Regions from separate parts of the Homo sapiens genome. Here region 2 is linked to region 1. A link means that fine-mapping ties the variant in region 1 to the expression of a gene that starts in the linked region. Tissue or cell type: whole blood. Region 1 holds a variant in brackets; the other region holds the start of a gene. All regions are shown on one strand. Distances are between the middles of the regions.

Region 1 (8,101 bases):
CGGCCTGGGTGGACACTGGAGGGCACTTTCTGTCTGTGGGTTTTGCCCTGGTGCCTGGAGCCCCTTTCTCTGTGGTCTCTTGACCCAGCCCAGCTCAATGAGCCTGGAGCCCTGGGCTTCTGGAGAAGAGATGTCAAGCTCTACCACAGGTCACAGGTCAGAAACAACTCTCGCCTTGTCTGATGCAAATGGAAGCCAGGCCTGCTTCCCACAGGGCGGGCACTTCCAGTGGGGCACAGCAGCAAGGCAGAGGGACAGACTCTGAGGGGCCCTTGAGAAAATCAAGCAGGGCCCACAGGGACCCTCTCTCTGGGGTTGCAAACTGGCACTGGGTGGAGGGAGATTCGGTATTGACACCTGGGGACCCTTACCCCCAAAGTGGATGTTAAGGACAGCAGCACATTAGGGAGACAAGGGGCCCCACAACACTCCCAGCCTGTCCCCAGCCTGCTTCCGGCTTTCTGGTCCTTTTCTCTTGCGGGGAAGGAGAATTTTATCTGACTTTCTCTGACTTCTGGCCTTTCTTGGGCAGCTGAAAATGATAAGTAGGAAATACTGGCTTGCTTAGAGCCTTCTTTGGTTTTACTGGGAAATGGAAACTTTGGCAGATGGGGAAGGACAGTGGGAACCCCAGGAAAAAGGGACGATGCTCTGATGGTGGAGTGTTTCCTCTTCTGTTGTTTTCTGTGATCTAAAATGAGAGGTTGCTTGGGATAGTTGATTTGTTTTCCATTGATGACACTGAGATGTTCTTGGCCTGGAATCCCATGGCCACCACAAGTTGGGTTGTTTGGGGTTCGGGTGGTCCAGGAGTGGCTCTTGGTGTGGTGTGACTGGCAACCTCTGGACACTTTTCACCTATGGATTTTTCATCACTTGTTCCAGTGAAGGACACTCCTTGGGGTCCAGCATTAGTCACTTTTTAATAAGTCTTTCCATTCGTTGGGGAAAAAAATTGTGGTGAACGGTATTCTGCACTGATCATTTTTTCTTGAGGCCTGTAGGGTTCCCTGAGTAGAAGGGCAGGGCCCCGGCCACCATGGAATACAGTGTGGCACGGAGGCTCCATACAATCATGGTGGCGCTGGCACTCCTGGCCCAGGAAGAGTTCCGTGGCCACGTAGGGGTGCGCGCCACAAAATGTTTTCAGCATCTATGCCTCCCCGAATGTCATGCTAAAGCCAAAGTCCATGATTTTTATATTGCGTTCCTCATTGAGTAGCATGTTTTGTGTGTGGATGTGTGATGTTCTTCAAGTGGCAGTAGTGCAGGGCTGACAGAATCTGCCTGAACATGGTTCAGGCCTCCTCTTCCTCGATGTGGCCTTGGTGGCATATCTGGTGCTGTAGCTCTCCTCCTCTGGCGTACTCCATCACCACATACATGGTTTCCACCTTGTCAGTCACCTGGTGGAACTGAATGATATTTGGGTGATAGAGAGTCTTCATGATACTCATCTCTCTCTCTAGAGAGCAAGGCCAGCCTTCTTAGGGATGATTTGGAGGACAATTTGGGTCCCAGTTAGCCTATGCCGGGCCAGTTCCCTGGCGGATGGTGTCAAGGATCCCATAGTTTTGTATCTTTTTGCCAGGTGAGGTGGAGGCCGATCCCGGCTCTATGGTGCCTCCTAGCTACGCTGCCGCAAAGGGAGGTGAACAAGCCAAGGTTGCCCGGCCTGTACCTAGGGCCACACGGCTCCTGAGGCCTGGCATGAGTTGATACTGGAGGGGGCTTTCTCTTTGTGGGCTTTGTTCTGGTGCCTGAAGCCACTTCCCTATGGTCTCTTGATCCAGCCTAGCTGGCTGAGCCTGGAGCCCTGGCTTCCAGAGAAGAGATGTCAGGCTGTACCACAGGTCATGGGCCAGAAACAATTATGGCCTTGTCCAGTGCCAGTGGAAGCCAGGCCTGGGGAGGGCGCCTCCTCTCACAGGGCTGGCACTTCCCGAGGGTGGATGGCAGCAAGGTGGGGAAGACAGACTCTGAGGGGCCGGCCCTTCGGGAGCTCAAGCAGAGCCCACAGGGACCCCGTCTGGGGTTGCAAACTGGCATTGGGTGGAGGGAGATTCAGTATTGACACCTGGAGGACCCTCACTCCCAAAGTGGATTTTAAGGACAGCAGCACACTGGGGAGACAAGGGGGCCCACAGCATTCCCACCTGGTCCCCAACCCGCTTCTGGCTTCCTAGTCCTGTTCTCTTGGGGGAAACAAGACTCTTATCTGACTTTCTCTGACTTCTGTCCCTGCTTGGGCAACTGAAAATGACAAGTAGGAAATACTGGCTTGCTTTGAGCCCCCTTTGGTTTTGCTGGGAAGGTGGAAACTTTGGCAGACGGGGAAGGACAGATGGGAACCCCAGGAGGAAGGGCCATTGCTCTGATGGTGGAGCGCTTCCTCTTCTGTTCTTTTGTGTGTTCTAAAACGAGGTATGTGCCATGGGAGAGTTGATTTCTTTTCCAGTGTTGACACTGAGATGTTCTCGGGCTGGAATCCCCTAGCCACCATGACCAGGGCTGTAGGGGGCGCAGGTGCCCAGGTTCTCTGTATGGTGTCAGCAGCACCTCCCGGCCAGCATTGACCCAGGAATTCCACATCAGCTGGTTTAGTGGGGGCCGCTCCCTGGGGCTGAGGGTGAGGAATTGTTTTACTAGTGTCTCCAGTGGAAATGAAAAAATAGATAAGGTGTCGTATTGTCATATAGCTTGAGGCAGAAAGGAACCACGGGTGGGGCTGGATGTTCTTTCAGCCTCCCTAGCAGAGATCACAGACAAGAGTGGTCAGCTTGGCCTAGCTTCTGCGATGGCTGGCTCTGATGTTGGGGAGGGAGGCAGTCCCCAGAGCAGGAATGCCTTCCCTGGGGTTCATATCCTTGCAGGGTAGGAGCTGGAAATCCTCCCATCAGAGCCTCCTTCACTGCAGCCCGTGGGGGCGAGTGACAGGGGGATCCGTGCCCCACGGGCAAACCTCCGGGCTCTGGCTTCAGCCCCACCCCGGGGAAACATGCACAGCCCCTCGGGAGGAGCCCTGCTGCAGGCTCAGCTGGGAGTCCTGGATTGCCTGGCAGGGCTGAGATGCCGTTTGGGTAGCCTCGGGTCTCCATGGAGACAGGGGCGGGGCCAGGCGGCAGGGGCGGGGTGCCCAACAGCCAACTGCCCGCCCTCAACCGCCAAAAACCCACACTCAACCGCCAAAGGCCAAGGCCAAGGGCCCTCTGGCGCTGCTGCCCCCACACGGACTGGCGCCCTCTGCAGGTCCCGCGGCTCCCGGCCCGCTCAGCGCCTCCGGAGGTCTCACCCAAGCCCTATCAGCTGGGTCCCTACGGGCCTCAAAGCGCTGGCCCAGCCGCGGGGTCACTCCTCTGAGCCTCCCGACCTTCCATGGGTCCTTTGGAGCCCTGGGTTTTGGAGCTTGTCCTTCCTCAGTGCCGCCCGCCGGGACGTGGCTGCACCAGGGCCACAGCACCTCGGGGGCCTTCATTTCATTTATGCCCACAAATAATCATTCAGTGTGCTGGGACAGAGAAGACAGACACGCTGGCCCCCTGGTGGGCGAGAGAGACTGGTCTATCAGTACAGAAAACTCCCAGTAGGGACAGGGGCTAGGAAGGAAACACCAGGAAAAGTGATGATGGAAGATGGGGGTGACCCTACTGCAGATGGGGTGCTAAGGGAGGGCTTCTCTGAGGAGATGACATTCACTTGATTGGCAAAAGGGACAGGCAGGGCCTGTGAAAGTCTTCTAAGAGGGGGAACCGCAGTGCCCAGTGGGCTGTCCCAGGATGGAACTAGGGCAGCGGGTGGGGGTGGGGATGTGAGCCAGGCAGGCAGGGCCCAGACACCGTGTGATGGGTGCGGGGGTGGGACCCACGGAGGCTCTGAGGAAGCTTTGGGCCTCAGAAGATGGAGAAACAGGAAGACCCACTTGGAGGCCTGCACCCAGGCAGGGGGCGAGAGCTGAATGCATCGCACCGCCCTCCTGGGGCTACCCGTGGGCCTCGCTTTCTTTCCCCATGCTCTGCACTCTGCCACGCACCCCTTCCTCGGCCAGGCGGACAGAGGAAATGCAGATGCTGGAGGCAGGAGCACTGGACTGGGAATTAGACTTGGAGTAAAATCTAAATGCCCTATGGGCCTGGCTCTTCTCTGGAGTTCGGCTTCATGTTAACTGTGATTGGGGGACAAGGGACAGTAAGACCGGCTCTCAGACCCTTGTCACTCCACACTGCAATGCTTCTCAGTGGTCTCAGGGGCTTCTATTTTAGGAATAGTTACCTGGCTATAGAAGAATAATGGAAGGAAACATGTTTTGAGTGGC[G/A]CTTATATCAGGCTCTAGACTAGGTATTGGTTTTGATGGGGAGTTGCTTTTTTTTTTTTCTCCCTTTCACAAAACCTGAGTCCTGACTAGGGCCAGGAGTTAGATTCCAGTTTCTAGATTTTCATCATTCCATGTTGCACAAGGCAGACATCTAGGGGACAGAAGGGCAGATTATTAGCATGTAAAGGAAAGATGATTTAGCTAGAGAAGATGTAGGAGAAAAGGAATCAGGATGAGGGGATTAGGAATGGGAGAGGAGGAGCTGGGGGACAGGGAGTTGGGGGCGGGGCTGGGACAAACAAAAAGGAGGTGTGGAGGGTGCCAGGGAAATAAAGTCCAAGAGGATAGCGGGGACCAGAGTCACAGCCTTAGTGGGGCCTCAGGAGAGCAGCAAGCTATGTCTACCTTGGAAAGGTGGAGAGAGGATGGCAGTGAGCTGGGCAGGGAGGAAGGGGAAGGGGGCAGGGCAGAGGAAGCAGGGGACAGACCGGAGGAAGAGATGGTGCCCTGGACCAGGTGGGGCAGAGGGGCCCTCTGGTCTCCAGGAGGTGTCATGCTGTCCTTCAGCTCATCCGTAGCTTTGGATAGGAGGCCTTTGAAGGCCGCAGGGTTGCCAGATGCCGTCTTGACTAGAATCATGTTCACTGACCCCGGCAGCAACTTGGACACCTCCATCCTCTGCTGAATGCCACTGGGCTGGGTGTGCTGGGCACATGGAAGCATTGGCCTCTTGCCTGCCTCCCACCCACAGCTGTTGCAGTCTACACATGGCCAACATGTCACAGGTTTTTAATATTTTTGAACCTCAGGGCCTTAATGCAGTAAAATGCAGGAAGTGCGGCTTGACTGCCCCACCTACTCGATTTTTGTCTTCAGCCATCCAACTATGTCGGGGCAATCATTTTGCTTGTTTTCTTCGGTGGACACACACATAATACTTTTAAAAGCATTGAAAGGCATCTCCTGGCGGCCCTGCGGCAGCCCCAGCTTCTTGACAGCGAGGCGACATCACAGCTTTGGGCTGCCCAGCTTGGAGGACGCTGGCTTCCTGTGATGATTGTCACTGAGCCAGGGACCCACTGCTGCTGGTGCTCTGGCTGGAGGGAGAGGCCATGGAGTCATGCTGGGGGACTTCACTGGAAATGGCTGGCTTCCTCTGCAGGCCGGCAGGTGCACTGGCAGGAATGGTGGTCTTCTGTCCTGACTTCTGGCCCTCCTCGGGCAGCTGAATTTTAAAAGTCTCAAAAGCTGGCTCGCTCTGAGCCCTCTTCAGTTTCTCCCAGAAGGTGGAAACTTTGGGGGCTGGGGAAGAAAAGGTGGGAACCCCAGAGGAAGGGAGGGTGCTCTGATGGTGGAGCGCTTCCTCTTCTGTTTTTTTGTGCACTCTAAAATGAGGCAGGTGGCCATGCGATAGTTGAATGTTTTTTCTTTGACATGGAGATGCTCTTGGCCTGGAATCCCATGGCCACCATGAGCTGCGTTGTTGGGGTTCGGGTAGTTCAGGAGTCATTCTTGGTATGAAGTCAGTAGCATCTTCTGGCCACTGTCCACCCACGGGTCCCTCATTGGTTGTTCCAGTGGGGGTCACACCCTGGGGTCTAGTGTTAGTAACTTTTTAATAAATCTATTTGAAATGAAAAGAAAAATGGAGGCAATGTGTACTTTCCTGTTTATTTTGTTCTTGATGTGCATAGAGTAGAAGGGCAGAGCCCCGGCTACCATGTGGTGTAGCATTACTCTAAGCATACCTCCACGGCGGGCACTGACACCCCTGGCCCAGGAAGAGTTCTGGGGCCACGTAGGGGGTACGTGCCACAAAAGGCTGGCACACTTCGTAAGTGTGGTGCTGAAGCCAAAGTCCAGGTATTTGATGTTGCCATCCTCATCCAGTAGGATGTTTTGTGGCTTTAGGTCTCCATGTGAGATGTTCTTTAAGTGGCAGTCCTGCAGTGTTGACGGAATCTGCCTGAACCGGGTGTGGGCCTCCTCCTCCTCCTCGATGTGGCTGTGGTGGCATATCTGGTGGTGCAGCTGTCCTCGTCCGACGCACTCCATCTCCAAATAGTCGGTGTCTATGGTGTCAGTCACCTGATGGAGCTGAATGTTCAGACGCTTGAGGGTCTCCGTGATACTGACCTCTCTGGAGAGTGATGCGGGGGAGCCAGCCTTCTTCGGGATGATTTCCATGGCTACCTGGGTCCCTGTCAGCATATGCTGGACCAGTGTGCCCTCACCGAACGTGCCCTGGCCGATGGTCTTGAGGATCCTACACTTTTGGATCTCTTCATCAAGTGCGTTGGAGGCTGATCCCTCCTCCGTGGTGCCTCCTAACTACCCTGACTACAAATCCTACCTCTGAACTATGCTAACTGAGGCACAACGCCAACTCCAATAACTAGGCTAGAGTCGCACAGGCTGCCTGGGGAGGGTGGAGACCGAGAGCCCTCTCCAGAGCCTGGTCTCCTTTGCCATGTTCCCTCTATCATTTTCCCTTGCACAGGAGAGGGGAGGGGTGTGCCCAGAAACTAAGAGCCACTCCCCTCCTTATCCTTTCATGACTCTTCTGGGGTCACACCCTCACCCTTGCCCACCCTGGAGCCCCCGTTTTGCTTTGAGGGGACCCGGGCCAGTGACTGTCGAATCACACCTGAGGCCCTGGGTGCATCAGTGGCCATGTGGGGGCAGCTAGGAGGTGTCCCCAGAGAGGCCCTGTGGTCATCCCCTGCTCTGCGGCTGTGTGCAGACCCCGGAGGCACAATCAGACTTCAGGGGCACAGCCAGAGGACACTTCCCCTCCACCGTCCCCTTTAGACTCTGCAGAATCCCTGGAGGATATCCAAGTGCACACAGTTTGTGCTCCCCAGCTACCCCGTGAGGGCACGCCCTGGATTAGTGTGAACAAATGGAAGCTGCTCCCGTGGGCAGGTCGAGTGCCTCTGGCACTCCGTTGGCTGCTGCCCACAAAGCTCCCGGCCATGGCCTCCCGGGGGGCTGCACTATCACTCTGGCTGCCTCCAAATGGAGAGAGGACTGCAGTGACCTGGGCGGGGTTAGGGGAGAAGGAGGTGGCAGGGCAGAGGAAGCAGGAGCACACAGGAGGAAGAGACAGTGCCCTGGGCCATATCTTCTCTCCTACCCTAACATGAGCCAAATTAGAACCATCTGGATGAAGAAAAGACAGAGAAGAGCAGGGCAGGGGAGAAGTGCCCCAGGAAACACTGTCCAGGCTTTTACATTCCACTAGGTGGGATGGAGGCGCCCTCTGATGTCCAGGAGGCTCCAGGCGGTCCATCTCACCCCTTCCTTTGGATAAGAATGCTTTCAAGGCCACACGGCTACCAGAAGCTTACTTGATTTGAATCCCATGCAGAGACCCCTCTGCCACTTTACACACTTCTGTCCTCCACTGGACAAGGCCTCCAGGCTGGGGGTGTCAGACACACAGCAGCGAGGGTGTCTTGCCCAGTTCTCCCATGCGGCCGTTGGAGCCCACACGTGGCTGACCTGTCATGTTTGTAGTGTTCTTGGACCTCAGGGCCTTCGTCCTCTCCATTCTAAGTACAGAAAGACATTTGACTGACATGGACTCCCTCAGGTGTTTTGCAATACGCAATACATTCTCATTGACTCTGGTCACCCTGCTGTGCACTGGATGTGAAAACCTCTTCTTCCTGTCCATCTCAGACTTTGGTCCTTTGAGCAACAACTCTCCATTCTCTCCCTCTTTCCCACCCCCACACCTGATACCCAGCCCCTGGTCACCATTGATCTACTCGCTACTTCTACGGG
Region 2 (8,101 bases), 150 kb after region 1:
AAAGCCAAGGCGGGTGGATCACCTAAGGTCAGGAGTTCAAGACCGGCCTGACCAATATGGTGAAACCCCATCTCTACTAAAAATACAAAAATTAGCTGGGCGTGGTGGCATGTGCCTGTGGTCCCAGCTACTTTGGGAAGCTGAGACAGGAGAATTGCTTGAACCTGGGAGGTGGAGGTTGCAGTGAGCCGAGATTGTGCCACTGAACTCCAGTCTAGGCAACAGAGCAAGACTCCGTCTCAAAAATAAATAAATAAATAATTTATATAAAGAAACATTTATGTACTCATCTGTAAATACTCAGGTATTGAAGGAAAAAAAAATTAAACTAGAATTTTATGTAGAGCCGAAGGTATGTCATTTAAAGGTATTGGCATGATAAAAAAATACTCTTAGGCACACAAGGTCTCATGAAGTTTTGCCCCACAGAGATCCATTTTATAAATGCCTTTAGAGGACAACAACAACAAAAACAAAAACATGCTTAGAAGATGCTGTGAAAGAGATGAGGGCTAAAGGAGGTCAAGTGCCAATTTTCTTTTGGTTGGTATTTGCCAGATGTCTTTTTCCAGGCTCTTTTGCTTTATAGCAATAGACCCAAGAGTAAAGGCATCATTTTAGACAGGAATGGTCACCATAAAATGACAAAAAGTTCAGTTCACCAAGAAGATGGAGCAGTTCTAAACATACTATACACCCAACCAGTCGGCCTCCAAAATAGCTGAAGCAACCATCTGTAAGACTCTCCCCAGGGCCTGAAAGCTTAAGGAGATGAATAACTCCTCCCTTCTCAAGCCTAGTCCCAAGGCGTAAGGTCACTTACGTCAGCAGCGTGCACCAGCAAAATAGCAGAAGCAGGAGGAGAGCCGGCTGGAATACACCTACCCTGGCCGGAAGACATGAAGATGAGAAAGAGGCCATCCGGGTACAGCGTAGCAGTTACGCCAGACTAGGACACTTCCTGTTTACAGGAGACTATAAAACCTTTGCCCCGTCCTCACTTGGGGCTGACGCCATTTTAGGCCTCAGCCGGCCTGCACCAAGGCGTTCATTGAAACAGCATGTTGCTCCACACCGCCTCGTGTTGTCTGTTGGTGCGCTCTCGGGGTTCCAACCCATACAAGAAACTTACACCATCGACAGAATACCAGGAGAAGTTGAAATCATAATGGTGGGCTAGTTCAAGTAAGCAGATGAAAACAAAACAAAGCAAGGTCTATCAAGATGTGAAGTACTACTTGTCTCCTCCCCTCATATTGGGCTGGAACCATGTGACTTGGTTTGGCCAATAAAATGCTAGCAGGTGGGAGACACTCAAAGACTTGAGGAGTGTTTGTGGGGCTAGGCTTGCCCTCCTGTGTGTCCGTGTTTCTAGAACAAGAAGGGGTCTAGGATAGCCCACTGGTCCAGGAGGAAAAGGAGCAGCATGAAGCAGAGCTGAGCTGTTGCAGAACCCAGCCTAGACCAGCGCCCAGCACCTCCAGGAGAACCTCAGGTTCCTGTGTGCAGCCATGAGCTTGGGGGCTTGTTTGGGTTTGTTGCACCGCATTTTTGTGGCAATAGCTAATTGATACACCTTTACATTCAGAGATTGATTCAACAGATCAGAGAAAATGTATTTTTTGGCCGGGTGCGGTGGCTCATGCCTGTAATCCCAGCACTTTGGGAGGCTGAGGCAGGAGGATGACCTGAGGTCAGGGGTTCGAGACCATTCTGGCCAACATGGTGAAACCCAGTCTCTACTAAAAATACAAAAATTAGATGGGTGTGGTGGCGTGCACCTGTAATCCCAGCTACTTGGGAGGCTGAGGCACGAGAATTGCTTGAACCCGGAAGGCTGAGGTTGCAGTGAGCTGAGATCGCACCACTGCACTCCAGCCTGGTGACAGAGCAAGACTCCATCTCAATAAAAAAAGAATTATTATTTTTTTTTTTTTTGACAGAGTTTTGCTCTTGTTGCCCAGGCTGGAGTGCAATGGCGTGATCTCTGCTCACCACAACCTCCACCTCCGGGGTTCAAGAGACTCTCCTGCCTCAGACTCCCGGAAAATGTATTTTAAACAAGGTATTAGGTGATGCACAAGCGCTTATGAGAATCAATGCCTTAACCTCTCCATGGTTTTTTTTTCTTCTGTAAAAAGCAGACAGAACATCACCTGCTTTAGGGTTGTTGAGAGGATTAAGTATGTGAAGCTGATGCAGCCACAGTTGGGCCTCTCCTAAAATTGCTGTTTCTTTTCAACCTCTGCTCCTGGCTGGCACTGGCCAGCCCGCTTTGGGGTGGGGCAGGTGGAGAGAGGATGTGGGGTGTATGCGCCCTAAACTCCTGCAGAAAGTCATGCACCTCCTTTTTTCAGAGGGTGTTAAACTTCTGCTCTAGCACCTACCCATATTCACAGGGAAGGCCAGTGAGATGGTGAATTTGCAGGGGACCACGTGGGGCACGTCGGAGCTGAAAGTGCTGGCAGGCTCAGATGAGGACTCGATGCTGCTGCACGGGCGGTCAGAGTCAGACTCCTGGGCCCTGGCCTTGGCCTTCAGGTGTTCCTCCACGTCACACTCGCTCGTGGACTGGTAAAAGCTAGTGATGGAGGAGATGGGCTCTATGCTTGCGGGGTCCTCTTCCCACTCCCAGGCATGTAGCGACATGCTGCAGAGCGCACTGCTGGCCGCCGGCGCTCCTGGCAGGGAGAAAGTGAAGGCTGTCCCCGCCTGTATTCCAGGGCTGCTCCAGGAGGTAAGCCCGGCCTCCTGCAGAAGCACCCACCCTTCTCTTCCCTGCTTCCCCCGCCTGCTCCTAGATGAACGCCGGGGCTCCTTCACTGCCTGCCACACAGTCGGTACTCAATCGACTTAGAGAATGAATGGATGAAGGAACAACAGATAAGGGTGGCTGGCAGTAAGCACGACGACGAGCAACCCCGTTTCCTTCGCCTAACCAGGAGTCAGTCGCCGGGCTTCTGGAATGCCTGCCCCAGGTGAGCAGCTCCCGGGAGCCACCAGGCGGGAGAGGGGACGTCTGCTCAGGCAGGCCTGCTGCGCCTAAGCACAAGATGCGTTTGCTATTTGGGGAGAGGCAAACCAGGCCGGGGGCAGCACGTGCAGGAGCCTGGCGAGGTCGGGGAGGGCAAGCCCTGTCCCCAAGACAGAACATGAATGTGCACTGGGTGCTGGGCTCGGGGCATCAGCTCAGGCCCATGGAGGCGGAACGCCGGGCAAACGCCGAAGAGGGAACACGCATCGAGGCGAGGCGGGAAGAGTCCCGGGCTGCGGCGGCCGAGGTGGGGGCAGGGGTCGGGGTTCCCCTCCAGGTGCTGGCGGTACCTGCGAGCGGATGCGCTGGGCGGCAGCGGGGAGTTGGACCGCGGCGGCAACTCCCGTACCGGATCCACAGCCACCTGGGCGAAGAGACTCCAAGACTGAGAGGAGCGTCCGCCGGTGCAGGGAGGGCCGCAGGCCCAGCCACTCAGCTACGTTTGGCGGTTGCTAGGAGACGCGAGGGCGTGCGGCCTGGGGGCGGGGCTCCGCGGGGCGGGGCTTTCCCCCTCAGCCACTGCGCGCAGTTTGTCAAATGGCTACATCCAGGTTCAGAAACCAGCTGCCTTCATTCCTTCACTCATGCATTCACTCATTAAGGAGTTTCTACTCGGAACGTCAGCACCTACTATAAGCCTGGTCCTTGCCCGTACGATGGGAGGTAGGGGTTGATGGCTCCTTCCTCCCCCTCCATCAGCTCCCACCTCCCATTCTTTAATAAAAGCAAAGGAAGCTGTGGGCTCTGCAAACTCCAGACCTCCCCACGATCCCTCTCATTAGATTCTCTGCTTCTGTCGCCGATGTCCTTAAAAACCAGACCTCCCCACGATCCCTCTCATTAGATTCTCTGCTTCTGTCGCTGATGTCCTTAAAATAGCATGAGAATTCTTGTTAGTGATCATGAGCGCCAACTCAGAGATCAGAAAACAAAGCTTAGAGAGGTGAAGCGATTCGCCCGAGGTCACACAGCAAGTAGGGCGCAGCACTGTGTTGAAATCCGGACTGCCTGACTCCAAAGCCTCCGCTCGTCTGCTAAACCACCCAAGCTGAGAGCCCTGGCTGCGGCTCCTAATGTAGAGGACCTCAGCACAGCAAGCGGCTGGGACAGAGGGCTGGGGTAGGCCTCATGGAGGAAGTGAGCAACGCCAAATCTGGGGGGTGACTAGGCAGAGGCGGTGAAAGCAAGAGAAAGCATCCCAGGTAGAGGAACAGCATATGCAAAGGCCCATAGAGGTGAAAGGGCATGGCAAGTTTCAGGAATGGGTGGCGAGGCTGTAGCAGTGTGCAGGGCCCATGGTACATAGCCCCACAGGGCAGGTTAGGGCACAGGACTATGGGCAATGGGGAGCCAAGGCAGGTCTTCTGTTGAGGGAGGGCACCCTGCTCCGGCAGTCAGTTTGTTCAAGAGAATGGGAGCTGAGGCTACACACAAGCTTGGCTATTAAGAAAACTTTAGCTGAGTTGAGCTATGACCTACTTTGTGTCAAAGAGCAAAACTGTGGCGCAGCTGGGGCTGAGACCCAAGTCCTGAGCCTCCCAGTGCATGCCTCCCCAGACCGCTCTCAGGGCATGGGACAGCCCCTTTAATACTGGGTGCTCCAATACTCCTCGGGTTCAGTCTGAAAAACAGCCTCAAGTACAGCTGTTAGGGAAGACACCAAATGGCAGTGGGCCCTGTGAGGAGTGGGTTCAAACTCTTAGCACGAGAACGGCAACCACCTTGCCCACACCCCACCTGCAGCAGCCTGGAGACTGCTGTCTGTATGCCAGGAAGTGCTCAGGAGACACATGAAGGGCTGGAAGAATACAAAGCTACTCAGATACACCAGCCCCCAAAAGGGCCCTTTAACAAGGGCAGTTCAACACTACCACCACTCTTGGACAGACATCAGGCCTCCTGCTCCCCAGGTCCTACCCACTGGCCTGAGGCTGGTTTCCCTCCAAAGGTTCCTAGATCACATCACCACCTAGGACAGAAGCCAATCTCTTCCCAAGCTCAATAGTGAGAGGCCAGAGGTCTTGGACCAAGGGCCAATGTGCCATCCTGGATGTGCACTGGAAACACCTACATGTCAAAAATACAATTCTGAGGCTTCATTAAAGACCTGTGGAAGTGACTCTCCAGGGGTGGAGCTTAGAAACCAGTGGCAGATTGTATTTTCCAAAGACAGCCACCTCAAAAGATCCCCTCCCACATAATCTTCCGGCAGGCATTGTGAGGTTCACATTCCTCCCACCCAGTTGGGGGGTCTAGTCTCCTTCTCTGGAAACTGGGCAGACCTCTGTGACTGGCTCAGTCAAAAGAGTGCAGAGGAAATGACACTATGTGATTTCTGAGGCCAGGTCATATAAATTCCATCTACCTCTGCCCTGTTCTTTTGAGGTATAGTATTCATGCTAGGAATCCAGCTAGCATGTTGTGAGGAAGCCCAAGCAGCCATGTGAAATGGCCACATGAAACTGTTGTGACTGACGGTTCCCAGCCAATTGCAGCCTCAACCCCCAGACATATGAGAGTGCAAGACTTCAAATGATCCCAGCCCTCAGTCTTTGAGCCACCCTGGCTGACATTGAGGAACAGAAACAAGCTGTCTCCATCATGAGAAATTGTAGATTTATAAGCAAATTGTTGCTCTCTTAAACCACTAAGTTTTGGGGTGATTTGTTGTGCAATAAATAATAGGAACGGGAGCCATATTTTTAAATTACCACCAAGATTGTATTGCACAACCAGAATATGGAACCACTGCCCTGAGAGAGATGGTGTCTGGGTCAAGACCTAGGGCATCACAGGATGAAGTGAGGGCAAAGGTGTGCTACCCACTACTCAGGTATGAGACAGTGGTGGGTCTACAACCCTACCTCAGTGAAGATGGCTTCAGGGCTGGCAGATCAGAAGCAAAGGAAGGGGGGCTTCTGTTTCAGTTATCTGTTACTGAGTAAAAACCATCCCCAAACTTAATGGTGTCAAACAAACACTTGTTATTTCTCACCACTCCATGCATCAGCTGAGTAGTTCTCTGCTGGCCTCGCCTGGGCTCACTCCCTATGCTGTGCTCAGCTGGAGGACCAACATGGCTGGAAGCTGCCAGAAGTCCTCACTTGCATGTCTGGCAGTTGCTGCTGGCTCTTCGTGGGCCCGCTGGTTCCCCTCCATGGGTTCCCCCGCCCCCAGTGGTACACCAGCTTCCTTCTATGTGGTGCCTCATCTCCTCATAGCCCGGCCTGGCTTCCTCAGATGGCATTCTCAGAGCAGGGATCCCAGAGGGCAAAGAAGAAGTTGCAAGGCCTCTTGGGACCTAGGCGTGGAACCAGCACCATGTCACTCTGCTACATGCCATTAACCAAAGCAAGTCATGAGGCTGGCCCCACTTCAAGGGGATGAAGACATGGACTGTACATCTGGTAAGCAGAGGGACAAGCATCCAGGGGCAGGAGGTGTTCAAGGTCACTGAACAATCCATCCCTTCATCCTTACTCTGCCGGGTGGAGGGTTCCCAAGCTCCCACAGGCTATGTAGAGGCCTTCCTGAAGCTATCCCAAGACTCTGGCAGCTGGAAGCATATTGGGAATCAGCTACATACACCTTCTTCTTGCCCCTTCCCCATTTTTAACAGCTTTATTGAAGTATTTTTTATTTAATAAAATCCATCCATTTCAAGCGTAGAATTCAATGATTTTCAGTAACTTTACCTAGTGCTGTAATCATCATCATAAATTCATTTTAGAACATTTTCATCCCCCTAATAAGACTTCATGCACATTTATAATTAATCTCTGTTCCAACTCCCAGTCCTAGGCAACCATATCTACTTTGTTTCTAAAAATTGGCCTTTTCTAGACATTTCCTATAAATTGAGTCAGACACTGTGTTCTGGCTTTGTGACTGGTTTCTTTCACCTACCGTTATGTTTCCAAGGTTTATTTATGTTGAGGCATGTGTCAGTATTTCATTCCTTTTCATGACTGAATAATATTCTATTGTATGGACAGACCACAGTTTGCCTATCCATTCATCAGTTAATGGGCATTTGGCTTGGGCATTTAGACATTTATGAACAACGTTGCTATGAACATTCCCACACAAGTCTTTGTGTGGATGTGTTTTCATCTCTCTTGGGTCGATATCTAGGAGTGGAAGAGTTGGGTCGTATGGTCATTTTGTGATTAACTTCTTGAGAAACTGCCAAACTATCTTCCACAGGGGCTGCATCATTTTGTGTTCCCATCAACAACATGAAGTTTCCTGTTTCTCCAAATTCTTGACAAGATTTATTGCCTGTTTTATTCACTACAGCTATTCTCATGAGTATAATATAGTATTTCATCATAGTTTTCATGTGCATTTCCCTAACAAGAATACTGAGATTGTTTTATGCACATGTTGGCTATTTATACAACTTCTTTGGTGAAATGTCTGTTTGTATCTTCACCCACTTTTTGATTGGATTGTTTGTCTTCTTGTTACTGAGTTGTTAAGAGTTCATTGTAAATTCGGAATATAAGTCCTTTACTGGGCATATGTTTTACAAATATTTTCTCCTAGTCTCTTGTTCGTCATATTTTCTTAATAGTGTCTTTTGAAGTGCAAATGTTTTGAACTTTGATGAAGGTCCGATTCATCATTTTTTTCTTTTTTGGATCATGCATTTGGTGTCGTATCTAAGAAATCTTTGACTAACAACAGGCCTATTTTTAATAGAAGTAAAGCTTGGTGTCTGAACACTAAGCAAATCTACTAACCAAGACCCCTAAAAACCCAAAAGCTTTATGACACTGAAAATAATGGCCCAAGGACATTCCCAGACAGTTCTGGGCTCTGGATAGAACAACACAAGTTTCCAAAAAACAGGCTGATAATACCACAAGCTTATAAAATATGTATACTCCTTGGCCCAGTAATAAATCACTCAAGATATGGCACAAACTGTTCACAGTATGGTTTTTGCGGAGAAAAGCTGAAAACCACCTCAGTGGGCATCTGTGGGGGATGACAAAGCACCTTATAGTTCATCCCCAGGGAGCACAGAGCAGCCTCTGGAGCAGTGTCTGCAAAGAAACCACA

What was found. PIP is the estimated chance that this variant, and not a neighbour inherited with it, causes the effect.
Region 2: it holds the start of CFAP92, and the variant in region 1 is fine-mapped to the expression of CFAP92 in whole blood (TOPMed, PIP 0.94).

The regions. Positions count from the first base shown.
Region 1 is chr3:128,842,820-128,850,920 of GRCh38, forward strand. MIR12124 (microRNA 12124) reads left to right here and starts at 3,989; the gene lies at 3,989-4,089. It also overlaps the pseudogene MARK2P17 and the pseudogene MARK3P3. RefSeq lists enhancers at 2,461-3,458, 3,447-3,496, 3,459-4,456, 4,457-5,454 and a silencer at 3,037-3,246. The variant G/A (reference allele first, on the strand shown) is at 4,313.
Region 2 is chr3:128,990,656-128,998,756 of GRCh38, forward strand. It overlaps CFAP92 (cilia and flagella associated protein 92 (putative)), which reads right to left and starts at 3,421. Exons shown (of 16, transcript NM_001394090.1): 1 at 3,325-3,421; 2 at 2,388-2,681. The coding sequence starts at 2,649. RefSeq lists an enhancer at 2,089-2,850 and a silencer at 3,427-3,636.